Linked DNA regions of Homo sapiens. The protein of the gene in region 3 purifies or fractionates together with the protein of the main gene of each other region. This does not show direct contact. Each region holds a gene or a part of one and is shown on either strand. Other genes may lie near its edges. The genes, in order: PAIP1, PYM1, UPF3B, XRN2, SART1, CACNA1C and WBP11.

Region 1 (3,500 bases), on a different chromosome or scaffold from region 3:
CCCTTCTTATCTCTGTATATGTGCTCTTATTAAATAAGATCTTACTCTGTTCTGGCTTTTTGTTTTTGTTTTTGCCACCTAATGAAACATCTTAGATTTTTCCATGGCACAGAGATTTACCTCTTTTATTGAATAACTTCCTAGTATTCTGTCATATGCATATGCATTGTTTATCCATTCCGTAACATCTATCAATGTTTACTAATGAATATTTGGATTATCTTCAGTTTAGCCATGGCAGCATTGCTTGTAATCTTTCCTCTTGTCATATATATGTGCAGATACTTTTGTAGGTTAAATTCTTAAACACGGATTTGGTGGGTGGACGAGCATATGTATTTTACGACAAGTAATGGCTAATTTGCCTTCCAAATGCTGAACCAGAGTATAGCCCCATCAGCAGAATGAGTACATCTCTTCCTACATCCTTATAGTGATGGATATAATCAATCTTGGTTTTTGTTTTGTCAGATGATTTTAAGCATTTCTTCATGTTTATTAGCCATTTGTTTATTATTTCCTATAAATTACCTGTTTAAATCCTTAACTGATTTATTTCCTGATGAAATGCATGTTTGTGTTTTTTTTTTTTATTCAAAGCTTCTATACTTGTTGCTTGCTGTATATTTCAAAAAAAGTGACATGTTCATTAAAATCTAATAGCCTATCTTAGTCATACAGGGAATATAACAGTCGTTGACATAAAACCCATGATTAAAGTTCTGCTATTGTTTTTTTTGTTTTAGTTTCTCTCAGTCAAGAGAAATATAGAGGGCGTAGAGATCACTGAATATTAGATGGTAGACAGAATAATTAGGAATATTAAACTTGCTAAATTCATCTTGTTTAGAGAATGCTTGAACTGTTACTGGTATCTTTTTAGAATTTCTATAATACACTATTGAATTTCTTATTTTACTGACACCTGCTTTTTTAGTTGACAGGATCAGTTTTGGAAGATGCTTGGAAGGAAAAAGGAAAGATGGATATGGAAGAAATTATTCAGAGAATTGAAAACGTTGTCCTAGATGCAAACTGCAGTAGGTAGGAAAAGAAGTAATGTAAATAGCCAGTGCATCTCAATTTCTTGCTTTTTCTTTGGAGATTGTTTTTTAATTTGCTATACTTCAGCAGGGTAAGTTGATGGCTAACGGATATACAAAAATGCTTTTCTTTAAAGGAATAATATTTTACCTATAGTTTCTGCTCACTAGACATTTTTGTGATAGACGTGTCAGATATTTTTGCTCAATTACATTTAGAAATTGAAAAAGCTAATTTTCTTAAGATATGAATTAAATGAAAAACAAAATCCAAATATTAACTGTCCAACAAATAAAAGTACTACTGTAAGTATAGTAGGACACATAAAAATGTTTGAAGGATAGCCACTGCCTTTAAGGTCCATATAGTCATAGTTACGTGGAACATAATTCAAGGCTATTTTTTTTTTAAATGAATTTATGTCATATAGGAAACGTCTAGAAAGTCAAGGCATCAGATGTACCTGTTAAATTAAGGAAATAAAGTTTTGGGAATCTGAGATATTTTAGGGTCTGACAGCCCTTATGGTGGATACACTAACTCATTTTCAACTTTGTCTACAGAGATGTAAAACAGATGCTCTTGAAGCTTGTAGAACTCCGGTCAAGTAACTGGGGCAGAGTCCATGCAACTTCAACATATAGAGAAGCAACACCAGAAAATGATCCTAACTACTTTATGGTATGCCAGTGTTTATATTTTAAGTTTTACTTATTGCTTGAATTCCGTTTTGGAAATTAGAAGAGCTACATAAAGCTGTTCTCAGAATTCAGTGCCTAATAACTGTCTTCACTGGCTTTGAGTGACATGGCAGCCATCAGACTGGGTAAAAAAGAAAAGAGACCTGGAATTCTCCAGTGAAAGGGTGGACTAGAGAAAGATATATCCAATGGCAAGAGAGATTGACAAGGCTTGGACTTAAGTGAGCACAGGGATGCCAGGAAGCAGCTTTTCCAGAGAATTTATAACCAAGGACCTGCATCTCAGACTTTTACTTTGCATGTTGTAGTAACGAAAAATAAAATAAAATTGGTTGGCTGGGCGTAGTGGCTCACACCTGTAATCCCAGCGCTTTGGGAGGCCAAGGTGGGCAGATCACCTGAGGTCAGGAGTTCAAGACCAGCCTGACCAACGTGGAGAAACCCCGTCTCTACTAAAACTACAAAGTCAGCTGGGCGTGGCAGTACTTGCCTGTAATCCCAGCTACTCGGGAGGCTGAGGCAGGAGAATTGCTTGAAGCCTGGAGGCAGAGGTTGTGGTGAGCTGAAATCACGCCATTGCACTCCAGCCCAGGCAACAAGAGCACAACTCTGTCTCAGGGAAAAAAAAAAAATGGCTACTAGGCCAGTGATGCCCTGAAGCTCCTGACATGAACAAACATAAAGCAGCTGTGGAGAAATGTTCCTCCAGCCCTGGTCCTGGAAATTCTTAAAAGAAATGGTGGGGTTGGAAACCACAGCTAAAAATGCACTGACACTAAATGACAATGCACAACAGAACAGTTCACTGAAAGACAATAGACAGCACCGTTAGAACCACAAGAACTTGAGATAATGGCATGGAAATCTGAAAACCATAGACTTTCTCAGTGAAGTGAAAATGGCTACCAGGAAGTTAGGTTCCTTTGCTTGTTCTTGCATTATTAGGTGCAGACGGGTGACATCAGCCATGCTTCATTATTGTACTTACAAAAATCAATTCTGAAATGATTACATATTTTTATCACTTTGATTCATCCTAGAATGAACCAACATTTTATACATCTGATGGTGTTCCTTTCACTGCAGCTGATCCAGGTATGTTGTCTCACAGTCATTCCCTCCTCCCAGTTGTTTGGTAAAGTAGTAAATTTACAGAAAACCACATCCTCACCAGCACAAGATTGTAACTTTTTGATGTCTTCACATCATTCTAAAATACCAGTGTAATGGTTTGTCTAATATAGAATGCTCTTCATAGTGACCACTTGAAACATTTCAAATGAAAGTATGATTCCACATATAATGTCTTGTCACTTAACAACAGAGGATGGGAAGAATTCTCAATTAAATGCAACTATTTTAATTTTATATTTCCTCTAACTTTTTTATAATCTTAAATTTTCAGGTGATTAGAATGGAGGGGAAAGACGATTCTAGTTCACTGCATAGTCAGCAACATATATTAATATGGGTTAATACTTTACACGAAGAATTACACATTTCATTCATACTTGGTGTGTGACAGTTAATTAAAATCCAAATCTCTGCACATTTCCTCTTCCAGAAGAGGACCATTTATAGAAAGATTGCCTTAATTGTATTAGATGGAACTGTAGAGTGAGGAAGAGAAATTTTTCCCTTTGGTACAAACTGCAACCAGCTTATGGTTGGAATTTTTCCATTTGTTTCCTCTGGATTCCAAGCATTGACTGTCCTGTGTCTCTAGCACAGAGAAGTTTTTTTAGGGCAAGGAAG
Region 2 (3,500 bases), on a different chromosome or scaffold from region 3:
GGTTGTAGTGAGCCAAGATCACACCACTGAACTCCAGCCTGGGCAACAAAGCAAGACTCCATCACAAAAAACAAACAAACAAACAAAAAAAAAACTTAACTATTGGGTACTAAGCTCACTATCTGGGTGATGGGATCACTCATACCCCAAACCTCAGCATCACATAATTATACCCATGTAACAAACCTACACATTTTCTTTTTTTTTTTTTTCTTTTTTTTGAGACGGAGTCTCGCTCTGTCGCCCAGGCTAGAGTGCAGTGGCGTGATCTCGGCTCACTGCAAGCTCCGCCTCCCGGGTTCACGCCATTCTCCTGCCTCAGTCTCCCGAGTAGCTGGGACTACAGGTGCCCGCCACCATGCCCGGCTAAGTTTCTTTTGTATTTTTAGTAGAGATGGGGTTTCACCGTGTTAACCAGGATGGTCTCAATCTCCTGACCTCATGATCCGCCCGCTTCGGCCTCCCAAAGTGCTGGGATTACAGGCGTGAGCCACTGCGCCCAACCACAAACCTGCACATTTTCTAAATCTAAAATAAAAATGGAAATCAACAAATAGGCCAGGCATGGTGGCTCACGTCTGTAATCCCAGCACACTAGGAGGCTGACGTAGGAGGATCACTTGAGCCCAGGAGTTCAAGACCATCCTGGGTAAGATGGTAAGACCTCCATCTCTATAAAAAATTTAAAAATTAGGCTGGACATGGTGGCTTACACCTGTAATCCCAGCACTGGGAGGCCAAGGCGGGTGGATCACCTGAGGTCAGGAGTTTGAGGCCAGCCTGGCCAACACGGTGAAACCCCGTCTCTACTAAAAATACAAAAATTAGCTGGGCGTGGTGGCACGTGCCTGTAGTCCCAGCTACTTGGGAGGCTGAGACAGGAGAATCGCTTGAACCTGAGAGGCAGAGGTCGCACTGAGCCGAGATTGCACCACTGCACTCCAGCCTGGGCGACAGAGCAAGCGTCCATCTCAAAAAAACAAAAATAAAAAAGGTAGTCCTATCATTTAATCACATTTCCCAAAGCTTTTGTTATGTAAAATACTACTCCCATAAGATATTAAACAGGGGTTATCCCTAAAAATTGTTAAATAAGTTTGGGAAATTCTGGGTTAAACACCAAAAAAGATTTTGCGTTTGTTTTTTTTAACAGCAAGGCTTAAATGAGTTACTATGTTCTTATTCAGGTACATATGCAAGATGGGAATATGGTTTACAGTGTTTCTCAAAATTTGTGCACAGAAACATTATTTGCATTTTATTTTATTTATCTTTGAGATGAGGTCACTGTCACCCAGGCTGGAGTGCAATAGCTGGACCTTGACTCACTGCAGTCTCCACCTCCCAGGCTCAAGCAATTCCTCCCACCTCAGCCTCCCAAGTAGTTGGGACTACAGGAGTGTGTGTGTCACCACACCCAGTTAATTTTTTGTATTTTTAGTAGAGACGAGGTTTTGCCATGTTGCCCAGGCTGGTCTCGAATTCCTGGGCTCAAGCAATCCACCCGCCTCAGCCTCCCAAAGTGTTGAGGTTACAGGCGTGAGCCACCACTCCCGGCCTCTATTTTAGTTATTTATTTTGTGTCACATCTCAGAAGATTACTAGGTGTTTCAAGGATTCATATTTTAGAAAATAACAGCCAATCTTAACAGTATAATTCAAAATATGTCATTTTACCTTAATGTTATATATGCATATGTGCTTAGAAAAACTAGGCTGGGGGCCAGGCATGGTGGCTCACGTCTATAATCCCAGCACTTTGGGAGGCCAAGGCAGGCAGATCACCTGAGGTCAGGAGTTCGAGACCAGCCTGGCCAACACGGTGAAACCCCATCTCTAACTAAAAATACAAAAAAATAGCTGGGCATAGTGGTGCGTGCCTGTAATCTCATCTATTTGGGAGGCTGAGGCAGAATAGCTTGAGCCCAGTTGGCAGAGCAGAGATCGCGTCACTGCACTCCAGTCTGGGTGACTGGAGACAGAGCAAGACTCCGTCTCAAAAAAAAAAGAAAAAGAAAAAAGAAAAACTAGGCTGGGTGCAGTGGCTCATGCCTGTAATCCCACCACTTTGGAAGGCCATGGTGGGAGCACTGCTTGTGAAAATGAGTTTGAGAACAGCCTGGGCAACATAGCTCTATAAAAAAATTCAAAAATTAGCCAGCCATGGTGGCGCATGCCTGTAGTACTAGTACCAGCTACTCAGGAGGAGGAGGCAGGAGAATTGCTTGACCCCAACAGTTAAGACTACAGCAAGCTATGACTGTGCCACTGTACACTAACCTGGGCAACAGAGCAAGACCTTGTCTCTTTAAAAAAAAAAAAGGAAAAGAAAAACTAGTTGCTCATGCCTATAATCCCAACACTTCAGGAGGCCAAGGTGAGAGGATCACTTGAACCCAGGAGTTGGAGACCTGCCTGGGAAACATAGCAAGACCTCATCTTACAGATAATTTAAAAAATCAGGCCGAGCACGGTGGCTCATGCCTGTAATTCTAGCATTCTGGGAGGCCAAGGTGGGCGATCCTTTGAGGCCAGGAGTTCAAGACCAGCCTAGACAACATGGTAAAACACCATCTCTACTAAAAATACAAAAATTACCTGGGAGTGGGGGTGCATGCCTGTAATTCCAGCTACTCGGGAGGCTGAGGCAGGAGAATCACTTGAGCCCAGGAGGTGGAGATTGTAGTGAGCAGAGATCGCACCACTGCACTCCAGCCTGGTGACAAAGCGAGACTCCGTCTCAAAAAAAAAAAAAGAAAAAAAAAGAAAAAGAAAATAACCCTAAATGCCGAAAAAGATGCATGCACAAAAACATTCTAGTGTTCTTATAATAAAAATTCTGAAAACAATCTAAAAGTCCAATAACAGAAGAAAGTAAGATAGGGTGCATGCCCAAACTATAAAACACTCTGCCAGTATTTTAAAAGATGTTTACAGAGTTTTTAATAGCAAGGAAAAACATTTACCTCATAAGGCTAAATGAAAAGGCAAGATATAAAAATGTATATACCATCTGGTTCTGCTATGTTTAAAACAGTTTAGAAAGATATATGCCATATATAACAGCAGACTCTGGGTTGATGAATTAATATTGAACAAAAATTACATAACTAAATTTGCACTTAAGAAGCAGTAATCTGGTAGCAGTGTATCTGTAGAAATGAAACAAGAGAGGGACTGGAAATACGATGACCAGTTTAGGAGGTCACAGTAATATTTGCAGAACAACAGAAACTAGAATTTTAGCAGGCACTTGGAATGGCCCAAGTACTATGCCTGGTACTTGGCCATATATAGTAATTTCTTCTAACCCATACAATGACCCTTACATAATAGTAATAATTATAGAACAATGTGTTGGACACTTTTTATGTGCCAAACATGTAAATTACTTTATTTAAATTTTAATACGCATAATAATCCTGTGTTGCAGGAGTTATTCCAATTTCATTGATGAGAAAACTAAGACTTAGATTCCCAAGGCTATATAGCTAACAAGT
Region 3 (3,500 bases):
CTCCGCCTCCCAGGTTCAAGTGATTCTCCTGCCTCAGTCTCCCAAGTAGCTGGGATTACAGGCGTGCACTATCACGCCTGGCTAATTTTTGTATTTTTATTTATTTTTATTTTTATGTATTTATTTTTTTGAGACGGAGTCTTACTCTGTCGCCCAGGCTGGAGTGCAGTGGCATGATCTCGGCTCACTGCAATCTCTGCCTCCTGGGTTCAAGTGATTCTCATGCCTCAGCCTCCAGAGTAGCTGGGATTGCAGGCACGTGCCACCACGCCCAGCTAATTTTTGTATTTTTAGTAGAGACAGTGTTTCACCATGTTGGCCAGGCAGGTCTCAAACTTCTGACCTCAGGTGATCCTCTCATCTCGGCCTCCCAAAATGCTGGGATTATAGGCATAAGCCACGGTGCCCAGCCCAACGTGATAATTTTATATATGTATACATTATGAAATGTATACATTATGAAATGTATACATATTGTATACATATATACATTATGAAATGTATACATAATGTATACATATATACATTATGAAATATATACAATCAAGTTAACACATTCATCACCTCACATAACACATCACCTCAAATAGTTACACTTTTAAAAAATAACAGCTTTATTGAGATATAATTCACATGCCTGAAATAGTCACCCTTTTAAAGTATACAGTTCAGTGAATTTTAGTATATTCATAGGCTTATGAGCCTATCACCACAATCTAAATTTAGAACATGTTCATCACCCCTAAGAGAAACCCCACCCATTAGTTGTCACTCCTCATTCTTCTCACCACTTCTACCCCAAACTCCAGGCAGCTACTACTCTACGTTCTGTCTCTATAGATTTGCCTATTTTGGAGATTTCTAACATTTTAAAATGAAAAATAGTTTGTAGGGTCTTTTTCACATTAAAATATCACATTTTATAAGTTGAATTTATATGAATATTTTACTTTCATGCCGTGTTGTTTCACTATGTTATCAGTGTGAATTTGTGGCTCCTTTTGTAGTATGTTGATTATGGTTGTGCCAGTGTGCTTTATGCCTTTGGGAGACCCTCTTCAGATGACTGCCATCAAAAGAGTCATAGAAAGCAATGGGTTGATTCCCTTATATCCACTTTTGACATTTTCTTTGTTATAGCAAGTGTGGTATTTTTTTTCTAAACAGGTCAGGAATATCCCGCTATAGTAGAATTTGCACCTTTTCAAAAAGCTGCAAAAAAGAAGACTAAGAAAAGAGATACCAAAGTCGGGACTATCGATGATGGTACAGTATAGCTCTAATTATATAATGCTATTGCTGTGGGGTTTTTAAAAATAATATCTTTGTGAGAGTTAATTCGACCCCAAAATTTTAAATTAGAAAATATACAAAATAAAGTAAGTGAGAAATGTTATTTGCCGATGGAAGCTTTGCTTAATTGTTAGACTAGAGAGAGTTTCTTGCACAGAATCTCTGCTCTCTTTGGCTAGGGCATTTCATTCTTCAACCATTGAACAATATAATGTTGACTATTGAGTAACAAATCACCATAGGTTTATTGATTAGAAGATAGTGGAAAGGCCAGGCGTGGTGGCTCACGCCTATAATCCCAGTACTTTGGGAGGCCAAGGCGGGCGGATCATCTGAGGTCAGGAGTTTGATACCAGCCTGACCAACATGGAGAAACCCTGTCTCTACTAAAAATATAAAATTAGCCGGGTATGGTGGTGCATGCCTGTAATCCCAGCTATTCGGGAGGCTGAGGCAGGAGAATCTCTTGAACCCAGGAGGCGGAGGTTGCAGTGAGCTGAGATCACACCATTGCACTCCAGCCTGGGCAACAAGAGCGAAACTCCATCTCAAAAAAAAAAGAAAAAGAAAATAGTGGAAAAAAATCAGGTTTCAAAGTTTAACAGGTGCTTCTTGAGGCCTCACCATTTTTATGATTATTTATTTGACTTTTGGTTTCCATTATATTTATAAAGAAGAAGGTTTGAACTGTCATGGGAAAATTTCCATACCCAGGTAACTTTGTATAAAGTAGCTGAAGTTGTCACTCCTATTTTCTGGTCTTTGGATATACAATTAGCTACACACATAGTATTAGGTTGAACAGGAATAGAAGAACTGAGGCCAGGCGCGGTGGCTCACTCCTATAATCCCAGCACTTTGGGAGGCCAAGGCGGGCAGAGTTGCTGAGGTCAGGAGTTCGAGACCAGCCTGGCCAACATGGTGACACCCCATCTCTACTAAAAACACAAAAATTAGCTAGGCATGGTGGCGGGCACCTGTAATCCCAGCTGCTTGGGAAGCTGAGGCAGAAGAATCACTTGAACCCGGGAGGCGGAGGTTGCAGTGAGCTGAGACCGCACCATTGCACTCCAGCCTGGACAACAAAAGCAAAACTCCGTCTCAAAAAAAAAGAAAGAAAGAAAGAAATACAAGAACTGAAAAACCAAAATAATTGCCATTTAAGGTACACTGGCTCCAGATTTTGAGACCTCTGTAATGTTATGTTAGATAGCTGTTACACAACTCTTTATGTTGGATAAGGACTAGGACCATATTTTATATCAGATTGTTACTTTAGAATCATCTAGTTTAATTTCCATCATTTGTTACTATTACAGGTATTTTATAAAGAAAACACGGTAAGGACTCAATAACACATAGCTGTGATACTGGTTTTATTACAGATTTAGATCTGGAAGACTTGATCAAGTGACACATAGAAACAAGCAATATAATGGCTTAGATGTGTCACCCTTTCTGATGTTAGAGGTCTAGGAGAGAACTCCAGGAATTCCCATCACCTCAAGTGCCACATCTAGGACTTCTCTCTAATTTATCTTTTTGGAACACCTAACTTAGTTTAGTAGGACAGTGACTTTTAAAAGCAAACTATGTAATACCCCTAGTGGTTCTGTTATAATGCATGGCGTCTCATTTTTCCTGACCCCATGTTATACCAGATTCCTATAGTGAGTATCAGTGATAGGAGTCCTGAGAGCAAGTGACCAATTAAGCTCTAAATAGTCTACCTTGTGGGTATGGTTTGGTTTTTTTTAATCTTCCACGAAGTAAAAAATTATCTTCTTTGATAAATCAGTATTGTAGATAATGTCTTCTTTTTTTGTTTAAAGTCTATTATATTTTCTGTTTCCTCAAATGATTATTTAGATCCAGAATATAGAAAGTTTTTGGAAAGTTATGCCACAGATAATGAGAAAATGACATCTACTCCAGAGACACTGCTAGAGGAAATAGAAGCAAAAAATAGAGAATTAATAGGTAAGTGGGCAAAAAGAATCAGGGCAACAGTCTTTTCATCACAGTACCTAAGTCTCCTACCTCCATCAGTTGCTAGCTGTGTGACTTCAGGGAAGTTACTAGTTTCTCTGAGACTGTTACTGTAAATTGCAGATGGTAATACCTGCCTCACAGCATTATGAGAATCCATTAAAGTGGGAAAAATTCTTTGACCTATTTAGTTTCACACAAATGTAATATAAATACAA
Region 4 (3,498 bases), on a different chromosome or scaffold from region 3:
TAGGTGTGGCTTCTGATGTAAAACTGGTACTTTCCTACAGAGGCGTTGGGGCTGAACCTCTGCTCCCATGGAACCGGATGCTGCAAACCCAGAATGCAGCCTTCCAGCCAAACCAGTACCAGATGCTAGCTGGGCCTGGTGGGTATCCACCCAGACGAGATGATCGTGGAGGGAGACAGGTAAATGGTTGTGGGATGAAAAGTATACTGCTCACTTTATATTTCAACAAGCCTCACAGGACTCCGTATTTTCTTACCAACATTTCTGGAGAAGACACTGATAGAGTAGCTTAGAGTAGCTTGGCTGAACTTGGGTCTGTCATTAAAAATGTATATGGGTTGAGTACCTGCTTCACTAAATAGGTTATATACCTTGAAGATGCCAAAGAATTTCTAACCCAAAAGCCCTTTAAATCATAGCAGTCAGTGATAATTAGTCCAAGTATAGTCAGTCACCAAAACACATTGTTTTTCCTTTAAGGATATTGTTCTTCAATAGAACCTAGATCCCTCTTAATGGGTGATGATTTTCTGGAAGCTGGAAAGTAAGTCTGCTTTTTCAGCTGTTGTCTTTTAGAAGTCATTTTACAATGTTGTCATTTTAGAAGTCTCCTGCCTTGATTCATCTGATATCCCTCCTCATAAAAGAAATTTCTGCTTGATAATCTTCCACATATTTTTCTTCTCAATGTAAGCAGCTGTATCACTGAATGACTATCATAATTCCTAGACAAATTTAGTATATGTAAGCTTCATGTCCTTCTCTTTACAGCATCCAGTTTTAGCAGCATTTAAGACTGAGGTCTATTTGACATAATTTCCTCCAGCAATTTGACACCCTGGCCAGTATTTACATGCTCTTAATGGAATCCTTACTAGAGAACAAGATTAGAATGCTGTGATTCAGAGTAATGTGTATGGAGTTTGGCACCTGCAGTGATGTGAAGTGGTTTTTAAATTGCTTACCTGGTGTTGCCTCCAGGCCTTTTGCAGTGCTTCACATATTAATTAGTAAGACCTCTCTTCTCACAGCTAAGGAACATATTTTGTATGTTTTTTGATGTATTCTTACAAGTATCTCCACCTTACAAGAAGATAATCACCTTAATTGCAAATAATTTCTTCTGAGATTTTGTTACAGTTTATTTGAATCAGTTTATCGAATTTTGCTTTGAATTCTTTCAGCCCAGGACCTCTAAAAATCGTGTCAGTGAACTAAGGCTCTTTATGTTACTATGGTTAGATGGCACTAGGCCGTTTCAGTGATGAGCATTTTTGAAGTGAGGACTATTTGTAACTGGAAGAAACCTTGGAGAATGTGTAGTCTAGTCACCTCATTTTCCAAGTCAGGAACTGAAACCCTGAAAACCCCACACGGTTCAGCAGGAGAACTGGTAGCTGGCTGCCTAGACTGCTGACCCCAGTTCATCCATTTTCCTCTCTCCTTTGGAGATCTTCCTTTTAAAGGAACTCTGTGCTGTTACAGGAGGTAAAATTCTTATTTACTTAGAAGATATAAACCAATTGGTAAATTTATTATTCTTTTAGGACTTTTTGAAAATAACATTTCTTCTTTCTCAGTCCCTTTGCCAGGGAGATACTTTTTATTAAATCACAATTGTTGAAGCACTATTAAATTGCAGAAGTTTGTTGTTAAAAACATAGAATCATTACTTCATTGTATTTTTAGTAAAGTTTTATATGACCAAACAAGGCCTTAGCCTGCATTCTGGCCTTGAGTCTGCACATGTTCATGTTTAAAGTACTGAAGTGCTCTCTGGGTGGCAAAATGAGGTGGGAGGGGGTTCCATTTCAAAACCCTAGAGGCCTAGGAAAGGACTTATAATGAAGAGGTGTCAGGTTTATCTTTTGTTATACAGAAATGTTATTTGCAAACATACTAGGATATGTTATAAAGGTCACGGCTAATGGATTGTGTAATAACCTTAATATGTCATTTAAAGCCCTACTATTTGTTGCTAAATAAAAAATCCCTAAAATCAATTGCTCATTTGGCCTTAACTGACTTAGCAAGCTCTTGCCTTGGTTAAAGCAAAGTTACTTTCCTTGTGTAATAAGTCTAAATTGATGTGGGTATCTTACCACAAAGTGACTTGAATTACTACTGCTAGGACAGTGAGAAAATTGAGAACCACTGTCTGTACATGTTGTTTACACAGAACACTTTAGTTATTTGTGTGCATTTGTGATTGTTAAGGTTTTTTGTTTTATTTTTCAGTAATAGCATTTGTGCTAGCCTCCAACTTTGCAACAAGTCTGTATTAAAGCTCTGGATCAAAGCACCTTTTATGGGGCCTTTCCATGTGCTGTACCTTTAACACATACTCAGTTTCCTTATGATGTGTTTTTCCATAGAGGTTTAAAGTTAACTGACTTGCAGGAGTATCGGTCCAGAAAATAAACTCTTTCTTTTGTTTATTTTCAGGGATATCCCAGAGAAGGAAGGAAATACCCTTTGCCACCACCCTCAGGAAGATACAATTGGAATTAAGCTTTTGTAAAGCTTTCCCAAATCCTTTCATCATTCTACAGTTTTATGCTATTTGTGGAAAGATTTCTTTCTCAAGTAGTAGTTTTTAATAAAACTACAGTACTTTGTGTATTTCTTTTAACTGTGTATATTTCTACTGATCTGATCTCACTGTTTATGTTGCTTTCCAAAGATGTATGTTGCATAATACAGTGGATCTGAATTTATTATTGCTTATAAAACACATTTGATGGAATAGGAGTACTGGTTTTTCATAATGGTTAAAAATGAAACCAGCTGTGGATTTCAAAACACAGTGTATTCTAGATCATCTAAGATCCATGCTGATTTTTATTGCACAAGAATTAGGTTTGAACTCGAGCTGGAACCTCAGCAAACTAGAGTATATATTGTTCAGTATTTCTTTGGAAACATTTCATTAATGTACTTGTCTTACAGAAATTTCTGAACTTTAGTAAAAAAAAATAAAGTTAAACTTTTAAAACTCTGTTTTGTGTTGTTATTTTGCAGTATTTCAACTTTGAAAATCTTGACCAAGCGTGGTTTTTTAAAATTAACTTTTGCAGAAAACTATTTCTGTAATCAGATGTCCAAACCAAAGGACAAAGAAGTCAATGAAGAAGTAGATTTTAAAAGATAGGGTCAGCAAGACATAACAAAAGCTTTAACTTTGTTGTATTATGTCAGTGACTGATCTGGCTAACTCAGAAATCTTTGTGAGATAAATTACATTTTTACAAATTTAATGTAGACTTCTCCAGTTTTAAGGACTTGTTTTAAATCTTCAAGTTGACAATTTTAATTAATGGCCAAATAGTCTATGCTCCTTAGCATATTTTTGTATGTCATTAGATTGCAATTTGTACTCATGTTTTTCCTTGCTACTAAGTACACTATAAATTGCTTAAATGTGTGTTTGGAGTTCACATACAGCACTTACATATGCATTTTCATTTGATTGCCAAAACATATTTAGACACACATACA
Region 5 (3,500 bases), on a different chromosome or scaffold from region 3:
GGGCTCCGCCTGCTCTCTGAGTTGGAGCTGTGGCCGTCGCATACTCACTCTGGCTGTGAGTTGTTAGATGGACTGGAAGATGTGCACACTTGCTGCAGACTGCGCTGTGCGGGGGTGGGTTTCTTGTTTTTCTTTAAAGCACGATTTGAGGGGCTTTGGAAGCCACAGAGGGTCCTGTTGTGCTGCATGGGTTGGCCAGGAGTGTGGGGACGAAGTGGGAGCAGGGAGGTGAAGGATTGTTCCTTCCTGTCCTGACCCCTTCTGGCCCCCTGAGCTGGAAGGGGGCAGGGTGAGTGGCTCCCTCCTCTCCCCACCAGCCATGGGCGGGCATAGCCTCACGTCTGGGCCCCCCTTCCAGAGGCGGGCACCAAGGAGGAGCCCGTGACAGCTGATGTCATCAACCCTATGGCCTTGCGACAGCGAGAGGAGCTGCGGGAGAAGCTGGCGGCTGCCAAGGAGAAGCGCCTGCTGAACCAAAAGCTGGGGTGAGGGGTCCTGGCCAGGGCAGGCAAGGGAAGGGCTGGGGAGGCCACCATCCTTGGCTGCCTCTTGAGTGGGGTGGGGAGCAGGAGCTGGGCTCCTTGAGCATCACTTTTTCCCCTCTTCAGGAAGATAAAGACCCTAGGAGAGGATGACCCCTGGCTGGACGACACTGCAGCCTGGATCGAGAGGAGCCGGCAGCTGCAGAAGGAGAAGGACCTGGCAGAGAAGAGGGTGAGCACCTGGGCAGCATGGGGTGGTCGCCTAGTGCTTCTGGTGGCCTGACGGCACTGAGGCGGGGGCCAACCCCAGAGAGGTGAGACGGGGCTTGGAGAAGGGAAGGGCCGTGGTCGGTAGCATCTACTTTGGATTCTCAGCAGCTTTCCTGCAAGGCCTGCCCTTTTTGCACTCCGCTTGGTAGAGCCCTGAGTGTTTTCTGGTGATGCTGAGTGGCCTGAAGTCCTAGGTCACCCCTCCCTGTCCCGTAGGCCAAGTTACTGGAGGAGATGGACCAAGAGTTTGGTGTCAGCACTCTGGTGGAGGAGGAGTTCGGGCAGAGGCGGCAGGTGAGGCTGCAGCAGGGGTGGTACAGGGGACACTGGTGGCCTTGCTACCGGAATCCCGAGGTTGGGTGCGTGGAGGGAGGTTCCTGACTCGCCGATTCTTCCCTTAGGACCTGTACAGTGCCCGGGACCTGCAGGGCCTCACCGTGGAGCATGCCATTGATTCCTTCCGAGAAGGGGAGACAATGATTCTTACCCTCAAGGACAAAGGTAATGCGAGCTGGGTGCCCTGGGTGGGGGCACAGCCTCTGCTGAGTTGCGGACAAGTGTGAATGGCCACTGCTCTGTGCTGCCCCCAGGCGTGCTGCAGGAGGAGGAGGACGTGCTGGTGAACGTGAACCTGGTGGATAAGGAGCGGGCAGAGAAAAATGTGGAGCTGCGGAAGAAGAAGCCTGACTACCTGCCCTATGCCGAGGACGAGAGCGTGGACGACCTGGCGCAGGCACGGCCTGGGCAGGCTGGGTGGCGGGGGCTGAGGTGGAGAATGTCGGGAATGGGGGCTCTGAGGAGGTGGTGGCTCAGTGGCTTTTCAGGAGCCAGCCTGGGTCCCAACCTGTACCTCTTGCCTTGCAGCAAAAACCTCGCTCTATCCTGTCCAAGTATGACGAAGAGCTTGAAGGGGAGCGGCCACATTCCTTCCGCTTGGAGCAGGGCGGCACGGCTGATGGCCTGCGGGAGCGGGAGCTGGAGGAGATCCGGGCCAAGCTGCGGCTGCAGGCTCAGTCCCTGAGCACAGTGGGGCCCCGGCTGGCCTCCGAATACCTCACGCCTGAGGAGATGGTGAGCCCTCCCGTGCCTTATACTCGGGGTCAAGATTCTCCCTCCCTCTGGGGCTCCTGCCCTGCCCGCAGGCACTGAGAAGACAGGGCGAGTATTTGTGTTCACAAAGCGCTTGGCCTCGCGGGTGAGCACTAAATGGCAACCGGGGGAGGCACCAGGTGTGGATGGGTCAGGGCTGCTGAGCCAGATGGGCCCCAGTCTGTTTCGGCTCTGCCATGCTGCCAGCTCGTGCCTTGGATAAACCATTTAACTGTGAGCCTGGGGCACCCCATCTGGAATGGCAGTGACAGGAGCCGCCTCCTGAGGTTGCTGTGAGGATGAGTGACAGCGTGGGTGAGGGGTGACTGGAGAGGTGTGCGTGGATTCTGTCCACAGGGTGACTGTGTGAACGTGAGGTAGACAGCTGGCGCGGTAGGCGTCTTCCTCAGTGGGTAAGAGCAGGACTCTGGAGCCAGACTGCCCAGCTCTCCCACCTAGGAGCTGGGCAACCTTGGGGAAGGTACTTAACCTCCCTGTGCCCCAGTTTCCCTAGCTCACCAGTGGAATTGAGATAGTAACCACCCCACATGTTGCTCATGTGTGGGAAGCGCTCAGGACGCTGGCTAGCACAGAGGAACACCAAAGAAGTGTTCACCCTCGAGGGCTTGTGGCGACCTGCCTTTCTGTGGCCCCCGCTCCATGTCTCGCCCCTCTTCCCTTAAGGTGACCTTTAAAAAGACCAAGCGGAGGGTGAAGAAAATCCGCAAGAAGGAGAAGGAGGTAGTAGTGCGGGCAGATGACTTGCTGCCTCTCGGGGACCAGACTCAGGATGGGGACTTTGGTTCCAGGTGGGCTTGGACACGGTGGTGGGGCGAGATGGCTGGGCTGGGGTGGCCTGGGGACCGGTGCTCACCAGAGAGGCCTCCTTCCCTCAGACTGCGGGGACGGGGTCGCCGCCGAGTGTCCGAAGTGGAGGAGGAGAAGGAGCCTGTGCCTCAGCCCCTGCCGTCGGACGACACCCGAGTGGAGAACATGGACATCAGTGATGAGGGTGAGGGCCCGGCCAGGGGGTGGGAGGGGCAGGGACAGGAGCCGCGGGTTGGAGGAGATGGTCTGAGCAGGCATCCCCTGTGTTTCCCCCAGAGGAAGGTGGAGCTCCACCGCCGGGGTCCCCGCAGGTGCTGGAGGAGGACGAGGCGGAGCTGGAGCTGCAGAAGCAGCTGGAGAAGGGACGCCGGCTGCGACAGTTACAGCAGCTACAGCAGCTGCGAGACAGTGGCGAGAAGGTGAGGCTGGGCATGGGCAGGGTGACTGCGTCAGCAGTCACCTGTCCTCACGAGCACCTGTGTCATAGGCGACAGCCACATTCCTGTCTGAAGCCTCTTTTCCATTTGTTTTTTGTTTTCTGGGTTTGTTTTTTTTTTTTTTTTTTGAGACAGAGTTTCGCTCTTTCGCCCAGGCTGGAATGCAGTGGCGCAGCCTCAGCTCACTGCAACCTCCGCCTCCCAGGCTCAAGTGATTCTTATTCCTCAGCCTCCTGAGTAGCTGGGATTACAGGCGCACGCCACCAGACCCGGCTAATTTTTATATTTTTAGTAGAGACGGGGTTTCACTATGTTGGCCAGGCTGGTCTCCAACTCCTGACCTCATGATCTGCCTGCCTCTGCCTCCGAAAATGCTAAAATTACAGGTGTGTGC
Region 6 (3,500 bases), on a different chromosome or scaffold from region 3:
GAATGGACACAAACAGATATCCTACTGAATGTGTTCTTGGCCATTGCTGTGGACAACCTGGCTGATGCTGAGAGCCTCACATCTGCCCAAAAGGAGGAGGAAGAGGAGAAGGAGAGAAAGAAGCTGGCCAGGTAACCCTCTAAGCTTGCCCAGGCCTGGGGCTCCAGGGCTCCCATTGTGGAATGTCTTCCCACTGGTGGCAGAGAGAGGCTTGACTGCTAGCCTCTGTTGGCTCTCCCTCCTAGGAGGACTCTGGGTTTGGGGCTTCCTAAGTTGGGCCTCTCTCCTAATTCCTAAGCATCACTCTGGTAGGGACCATCATGAATTATAATAATCTCTGCAATGGTGTCATATTCTCCACCTGCTGGGATTATCTTTTGAGAAGCTGTGATAGGTGGCAGGAGTGTAGGGTGGGGAGAGAGAAAGGTAACCACTCAGTTGGGAAACGCAGCTCCAGCTTACAGAGGGAGTCCTCCTCACTACTTTATAATTCATCTCCAGTGTTAGGAAGGCAAGACGGGGCCCTATGTTGTATCCTATCATTATCTAGACGGGACAGTTCCAGGCCACACAGCTGCCGGGCACTGAGCAGAGCTCCTCCAGGAGCCAATCCTAGATGAGATCCACCATCCTTTTCTGCTTTGGCGACCCAGGCATCTCTGGAGCTGCAAGAGGCCAATTGCGTGTCAGGCAGAGCAGGTGTAGCTCAGCCCCATAGCACTTGTGACTGAGCTGCACACGAGAAGCGTCCTGGAGAAAGGAAGATGGACTCAGACCCAGGGGATCTGTCCCCTCTGGCCCCAACAGGCCACAGGGCGGTTCCCTCCTACACTGTTCCCTATCACTCCAGTAAACAGCCATTTATTTTTTTCTGCTGCTGACTGGCCAGGACTGCCAGCCCAGAGAAGAAACAAGAGTTGGTGGAGAAGCCGGCAGTGGGGGAATCCAAGGAGGAGAAGATTGAGCTGAAATCCATCACGGCTGACGGAGAGTCTCCACCCGCCACCAAGGTGAGGAGCTGTCTCCTTCCTGGAGCTGTGAGGCCGGTGCTGGGGAGGGAGGGCCACAGCCTTCCCAGGCCAGAACCCTGTGGAGAAGAGGAGAGAAAGAAAGACACCCAGTGGAAAGAAAGCCAGTGGGGATGAACAGGAGAGCTGGGAGGGGGAAGATAAGGCAGATTGGCTGGATCCCAGCCATCTGCTGATGTCTTGAAGGAGATATGCAAAGTGACAAGTACCTATTTTTGAGCTAAGTCACTGACTAAAATGCAACTTCAAGGCTACTGCAAGCCTCTTAACTTGGGGACGTATCTAACTATTCTTCCCCCTTCTCCCCTGTGACTGTCTAGATCAACATGGATGACCTCCAGCCCAATGAAAATGAGGATAAGAGCCCCTACCCCAACCCAGAAACTACAGGTACCAGTCCCACTGCCTAACCTGGGATTGGGAGATTGGGGGCAGAGATCTAAATTCTAAAGCCACGTGGGAGTGGCCATATATTAGGGACCATGGTTCCAGTGTCCCTCTGTAAGTACCTTCCACTGCTGAGTGTCTTCTATCTCTATATTTAAGCATCATCAGTCAGCATCTGGGAGGCAGGTTTGTTTCTGGTTTCCTCATAATGAGATCACATTTGAGCAGTGCTTTTGTGTCCTTTCCAAGTTGGATTCAGTGTACATTTAAATTTTTGTTACATTACATGTTGTAAAATCATCATTAATTTATATAATGTATTAGTATGGCATATGTTGCAACATTATGCTCACTTAATATTAATAGTCAATCCCAAGTCTGCCTTGCCCCTACTCAGGAGGCAGTGCCGAGTGCAGGGACAGCTGCCACCACAGATGTCCCACTTGTTGCTTTAGGCAATGATTTCAGGTCTCATTATAAAAGGCGCGCTTACTGACTCCATCTTTTTATGCTTCTATCTGATACCTAAATTGGCAGGCAGTCTGCTTCTCAAGAGCTTTAATGTCAGAGATCAGAGGTCCTCCCTCCAGGCTTCACTTCCCTGCTCCCTGAAATCCCATACCCTGTGCAAGGCCTGGGCTTGCCTTCCTCTGACCTAGGATTGCAGATATTATCGCCAGTTTCAAGCTTGAAGTCAATAACATGCTATCAAGGGACTGTTGATTTTACTGACATTTCCTTGTTCCTGTAGGTTAGGCTATATTTGGGTTGTTCACCAAGTTAGGTGGCTGAGAACCTCCTACATTTATGAGCAAAGCTCGGTTTCCCTTTTTGCTTTCCCTCCGCTGGTTCTCTGCTTAGAACACTCACAGGCATCCTTGGGAACCAGACTCCCTGTGGTCACACCATCCTCACTCCCCTCCTCCTGCAAGGGAATAGGATGTGGTTTCCTGGAGCTTGGATAGAAAGAACAGGAAGGGCGTTTTCATATGCCCGGCATTAAGGCTTTGAAGTTCTTAAAACCCCTTCTAGGGTGAAACCGTTAGGGAATTTCAACGACGTACTAGAATTATTGAACAAATGCAATGGGAGGATCTTGCCTTGATCCTGAAGCAACAAATACACTTTAAAATGACGTTTTAGAGGGAAATGGGGGAAATTGAATATGGACTGGGAACTAAATGATTGAAAGTAGTTTTGTTAATCTTGTTGGTATAATATTTTGTAGTTCTGTTTTTAAACTGCTGCAGTGTTTATGGCCAGAGTCTAAATGTTTACGAGTTGCTTTGCTTTTAAAATATTCCAACAAAAAAAAAATGGGGACAGAGAAGATAAATGGAACAAGATTAGCAAAATGTCCAAAGTTGTTGAAGCTGGTTATATATATGAGGTTTAGTATGTGAGACTGTACTCTTGTGTAAATCTTTAAGGTTTAAAATGAAAGACAGTAATAAAACAAATTCCTTAGAGCCCTGAGAAGAGCCCTCCCATGGGGCCAGCCTCCAGGATGGGCCTCCCTGCACACACAACAGGGCAGATCTAGCATGAGGGTCTTTTCACACAGGCACCCAGCTGCAGCCAGGCCTGTACGGCAGATACACCTCTTGCATCTTCAACAAAAATCTCAAATTCTATTAATCTATACTCTTGGCTTTTCTTTTCTTTGTTGCTCTAATGAAATCAAAGAGAAGAATGTTAATTTTAAAAAAAAAGGGCTAATGAGGATTTTGTCACCAGGTCGGCCATCCTAGAAATGCCTCTCACGTAGCTACCCAGTGGCTCTGAGGACTGGGGGATGCTTACGCTTTCCAGCTGAAAAGCTCTTCCCACCCTCTGCTGAGGCCTCAGGATTCTTGAGATTTTTGAGTGTACGGCCCGCTCCCCGTCATTTCTGTTGGTTACATGTGTCTCTTTACTTTCGTGTTGAGACCTCTGGTCCATACCCTGAGGCTGCCCTGACTGCCCCACCACGTACACCAGCCACCACTCCGGCCTCTGAAGCCAGCCCCAAGCATGCCCATTTGTGCACTATCCCTGGTTTCCAGGTCCTCATCCAGGAGGTCCAAAGGGCAGCATGCTCTTAAA
Region 7 (3,500 bases), on a different chromosome or scaffold from region 3:
ATTAAATGAGAAAGTACTGAAAGACAAGCGTAAAAAGCTGCGTGAAACCTTTGAACGTATTCTACGACTCTATGAAAAAGAGAATCCAGATATTTACAAAGAATTGAGAAAGCTAGAAGTAGAATATGAACAGAAGAGGGCTCAACTTAGCCAATATTTTGATGCTGTCAAGGTAATCAAGGTTTTTTTTTTGAGAGATAAACTAAAATATTATACAGATTGAGTATCCCTTATGCAAAGTGCTTGGGACCAGAAGTGTTTTGGATTTAGGGTTGTTGGGTTTTTTTTATATTTTGTTTTGTTTTTGTGTATATTTGCATATATTTTGGGGATGGAACCCTAGTCTAAGCATGAAATTTATGTTTCATATACACATAGCCTGAAGATAATTTTATAAATTTTGTGCATGAAACAAAACTACGACCCATCACATTAGGTCAGGTGTGGATTTTTCCACCATGGCATCATATGGGAGTCAAAAAGTTTAGGATTTTGGAGCATTTTAGATATTCAGATTAGGGATGCTCAGCCTATACTTAGATTTAAAAAGTTAATGGGAGAATGTCATGTTGAACCTCTTCCTTATAGCAGTTTCTTCTAAAACTAAACATATACCTACTGTGTGAACCTGCAAATCTAATCCTCTTTATTTAAACAGAAGAAATTAATTCAAAAACTTGGATCAGCCTAAGTGTTCACTAATAGGATAATGGATAATTAAACTGTAGCATATTTATACAATAGAATACTATTCAGCAATAAAAGGAATAATCTAATACTCAAAACAGCATGGAATAAAAAAAGAAAAATTGTGAGTAAATCTCAAAAACATGCTAAGTTTATCTCATTGTTATGATTTCATTTTTATGAAATTCTAGAATAGTCACAGATAATCTGTGCAGGAAAAAAAAATGTAGCCGTGGTTGCCTTGGGGGATGATATTAGAGATGGATTGGGAAGGAGTATGAGGTATATGCATTTGTCAAAACTTACTGAATTTGTAAATTTCGTAAATTTTACCTCAAAATAAAGATGGGAAAAAATCAAATGCTATAATTTCTGTAAAGGAGGTAATATGTCTCCCATTTTACAGATGAAGGCACAGGTTACCTTGCTTAGTCAAACTAAGCTAATACACAACAGAAATTCAACATAGGCAAGCTAATGAGCCCAACCTCCACCACTGGATATATACTATTTGTTAGTTGACATATATTATTTTTCTTTTTTTTGTTTATTTTTTGTTTTTGAGACCGAGTCTCACTCTGTTGCCCAAGCTGGAGTGCAGTGGCACCATCTTGGCTCACTGCAACCTCTGCCTCCCAGGTTCAAGCAATTCTCCTCCCTCAGCCTCCTGAGTAGCTGGGACTACAGGCACACGCCACCACAACTGGCTAATTTTTGTAGTTTTATTAGAGATGGAGTTTCACCATATTGGCCAGGCTGGTCTCAAACTCCTGAGCTTGTGATCGACCTGCGTCAGCCTCCCAAAATGCTCGGATTACAGGTGTGAGCTACCACGCCCAGCCTGACATGTATTTTTCTATCACATGTTAAATAGGGTAGTTCTGGTGCTAGATACTTGTAACAGTTGGCTTTCTCTAGACAACAGCTGTTTCGAATCATCCAAAAAGAATTACCTGATAAGAGGAGAAAAAAAACAGCTGGGTTCTGACGTTTTTAGAAGTAAAGATTTCTTTCAGTTCTTTGACAATGTGGAAGTATTGACGTAAGGTTATTTTTCTGGGGGTTTTTGGTGATATTTATGTTAGTTGGAAAGCATGTCCAAGTTACGAAACAGCTGACTTGTCATTTTTAGTGTTTAGTTAGTAGATGACTTTTTTATCATACTACTGAATGGTTCTCTGTTTCAGAATGCTCAGCATGTGGAAGTGGAGAGTATTCCTTTGCCAGATATGCCACATGCTCCTTCCAACATTTTGATCCAGGACATTCCACTTCCTGGTGCCCAGCCACCCTCTATCCTAAAGAAAACCTCAGCCTATGGGTAAGGAAGCAGTGTCACAATCAGAGAGCATTTAGTAAAGGCACAAGTTGACTGTCCAGTGCCAAAATTAATGCAGAGGGAAATAAAAGACAATATGGATGTAAACAGTGTGACATTTGATTAAATGTAAAATAAGAAATCCCTTGAAAATTGTTTAGAAGAGAAAATAAATATCTCATTACTGTTAAGTGATTACTGTGGGGGTTTTTTTGTTTTTGTTTTTTTTTTTAACAGACCTCCAACTCGGGCAGTTTCTATCCTTCCTCTTCTTGGACATGGTGTTCCACGTTTGCCCCCTGGCAGAAAACCTCCTGGCCCTCCCCCTGGTCCACCTCCTCCTCAAGTCGTGCAGATGTATGGCCGTAAAGTGGGTTTTGCCCTAGATCTTCCCCCTCGTAGGCGAGATGAAGACATGTTATATAGTCCTGAACTTGGTGAGAAGTGACTGTTCTTTTGCTTTTATAACTATCATTTTTTATGTTGGCCCTGTTTAACATATTGTTCACCACCCTCAGAACTTAGAAAGTAAATGAGAGGGTATCATGTACATAACTAATATACATACAGTTGGATAAATCATAGGATCTTCTCAAGTAAAAGCATCATACATAAGTATAGAAATGTTTATCGTGTTTTAAATTAGGCTTTTCCTGGAGATGTCACTCTTGCTGCTAATCCTTTAAGACTTGTATATCTGGTTCCCTTTTAGCTTTATTGTCATCAGACTAGAGCGTCATTGTATACATTCACTGACTGTGTATGTGTATACAAACATGATTGTTGCTAAAGGAGGAAATGGGTTTTCAAATTAGAACTCTTTTTAAAAAAATCTTAAATTACCAAAAAGAAGTGTTTAAAATTATTGGCAGAGGAAAATTTTGTTAGACTGTATGAGTAGCTATATATACAAGAATTTTTTTTTTTTTTTTTTGGTAAGAATTAAGTTGTTACAGTCTGAGTTGAATAGCATAATTTTCTGTATTTCTGGGTACCATGTAGTGGAGGGTCCAATCATACTACTTCTCCATGTTCCCTTCCCACTTTTCAGCCCAGCGAGGTCATGATGATGATGTTTCTAGCACCAGTGAAGATGATGGCTATCCTGAGGACATGGATCAAGATAAGCATGATGACAGTACTGATGACAGTGACACCGACAAATCAGATGGAGAAAGTGACGGGGATGAATTTGTGCACCGTGATAATGGTGAGAGAGACAACAATGAAGAAAAGAAGTCAGGTATGTGCAGATGAAGGATTCATGGTATTGATCAATAAAGAGAAAACAAGCTGAAGGTCCTAATTTATTAATGAATCTGTGAGAGTACTCTGAAATCTTTGGAAGTCGGGATCATAGCTGTGTTCATCTTATATATTAAAATTTTGAAAGTTTTTGACACAGTAAGTACTCAGTGGATGTTTATGAGGAAAAGCATTAAACTGTATGTAATAAAAATGTCTATGTAATAAAGTTCACTTTGGGGTAAAAGGT

What was found.
Region 1: the proteins of UPF3B (region 3) and PAIP1 purify together in Homo sapiens (co-immunoprecipitation; one large-scale study listed by IntAct). This does not show direct contact.
Region 2: the proteins of UPF3B (region 3) and PYM1 fractionate together in Homo sapiens (co-fractionation; 2 studies listed by BioGRID). This does not show direct contact.
Region 4: the proteins of UPF3B (region 3) and XRN2 fractionate together in Homo sapiens (co-fractionation; one large-scale study listed by BioGRID). This does not show direct contact.
Region 5: the proteins of UPF3B (region 3) and SART1 fractionate together in Homo sapiens (co-fractionation; one large-scale study listed by BioGRID). This does not show direct contact.
Region 6: the proteins of UPF3B (region 3) and CACNA1C purify together in Homo sapiens (co-immunoprecipitation; one large-scale study listed by IntAct). This does not show direct contact.
Region 7: the proteins of UPF3B (region 3) and WBP11 fractionate together in Homo sapiens (co-fractionation; one large-scale study listed by BioGRID). This does not show direct contact.

Annotation. Positions count from the first base shown.
Region 1 is NC_000005.10:43,533,078-43,536,577, reverse strand, and holds part of PAIP1 (polyadenylate-binding protein-interacting protein 1), read left to right. Parts: intron 1-937; coding exon 938-1,044; intron 1,045-1,607; coding exon 1,608-1,725; intron 1,726-2,785; coding exon 2,786-2,840; intron 2,841-3,500. UniProt on the Homo sapiens protein: Acts as a coactivator in the regulation of translation initiation of poly(A)-containing mRNAs. Its stimulatory activity on translation is mediated via its action on PABPC1. Competes with PAIP2 for binding to PABPC1.
Region 2 is NC_000012.12:55,917,895-55,921,394, forward strand, and holds part of PYM1 (partner of Y14 and mago), read right to left. Parts: intron 1-3,500. UniProt on the Homo sapiens protein: Key regulator of the exon junction complex (EJC), a multiprotein complex that associates immediately upstream of the exon-exon junction on mRNAs and serves as a positional landmark for the intron exon structure of genes and directs post-transcriptional processes in the cytoplasm such as mRNA export, nonsense-mediated mRNA decay (NMD) or translation.
Region 3 is NC_000023.11:119,842,964-119,846,463, reverse strand, and holds part of UPF3B (regulator of nonsense transcripts 3B), read left to right. Parts: intron 1-1,167; coding exon 1,168-1,266; intron 1,267-3,162; coding exon 3,163-3,273; intron 3,274-3,500. UniProt on the Homo sapiens protein: Involved in nonsense-mediated decay (NMD) of mRNAs containing premature stop codons by associating with the nuclear exon junction complex (EJC) and serving as link between the EJC core and NMD machinery.
Region 4 is NC_000020.11:21,386,828-21,390,325, forward strand, and holds the end of XRN2 (5'-3' exoribonuclease 2), read left to right. Parts: intron 1-40; coding exon 41-179; intron 180-2,445; coding exon 2,446-2,511; 3' UTR 2,512-2,998; downstream 2,999-3,498. UniProt on the Homo sapiens protein: Possesses 5'->3' exoribonuclease activity. May promote the termination of transcription by RNA polymerase II.
Region 5 is NC_000011.10:65,964,734-65,968,233, forward strand, and holds part of SART1 (U4/U6.U5 tri-snRNP-associated protein 1), read left to right. Parts: intron 1-358; coding exon 359-485; intron 486-608; coding exon 609-714; intron 715-968; coding exon 969-1,046; intron 1,047-1,153; coding exon 1,154-1,253; intron 1,254-1,342; coding exon 1,343-1,485; intron 1,486-1,616; coding exon 1,617-1,823; intron 1,824-2,525; coding exon 2,526-2,650; intron 2,651-2,737; coding exon 2,738-2,853; intron 2,854-2,945; coding exon 2,946-3,088; intron 3,089-3,500. UniProt on the Homo sapiens protein: Plays a role in mRNA splicing as a component of the U4/U6-U5 tri-snRNP, one of the building blocks of the spliceosome. May also bind to DNA.
Region 6 is NC_000012.12:2,584,487-2,587,986, forward strand, and holds part of CACNA1C (voltage-dependent L-type calcium channel subunit alpha-1C), read left to right. Parts: intron 1-16; coding exon 17-131; intron 132-889; coding exon 890-1,010; intron 1,011-1,348; coding exon 1,349-1,418; intron 1,419-3,500. UniProt on the Homo sapiens protein: Pore-forming, alpha-1C subunit of the voltage-gated calcium channel that gives rise to L-type calcium currents. Mediates influx of calcium ions into the cytoplasm, and thereby triggers calcium release from the sarcoplasm.
Region 7 is NC_000012.12:14,793,479-14,796,978, reverse strand, and holds part of WBP11 (WW domain-binding protein 11), read left to right. Parts: coding exon 1-172; intron 173-1,874; coding exon 1,875-2,008; intron 2,009-2,242; coding exon 2,243-2,442; intron 2,443-3,056; coding exon 3,057-3,248; intron 3,249-3,500. UniProt on the Homo sapiens protein: Activates pre-mRNA splicing. May inhibit PP1 phosphatase activity.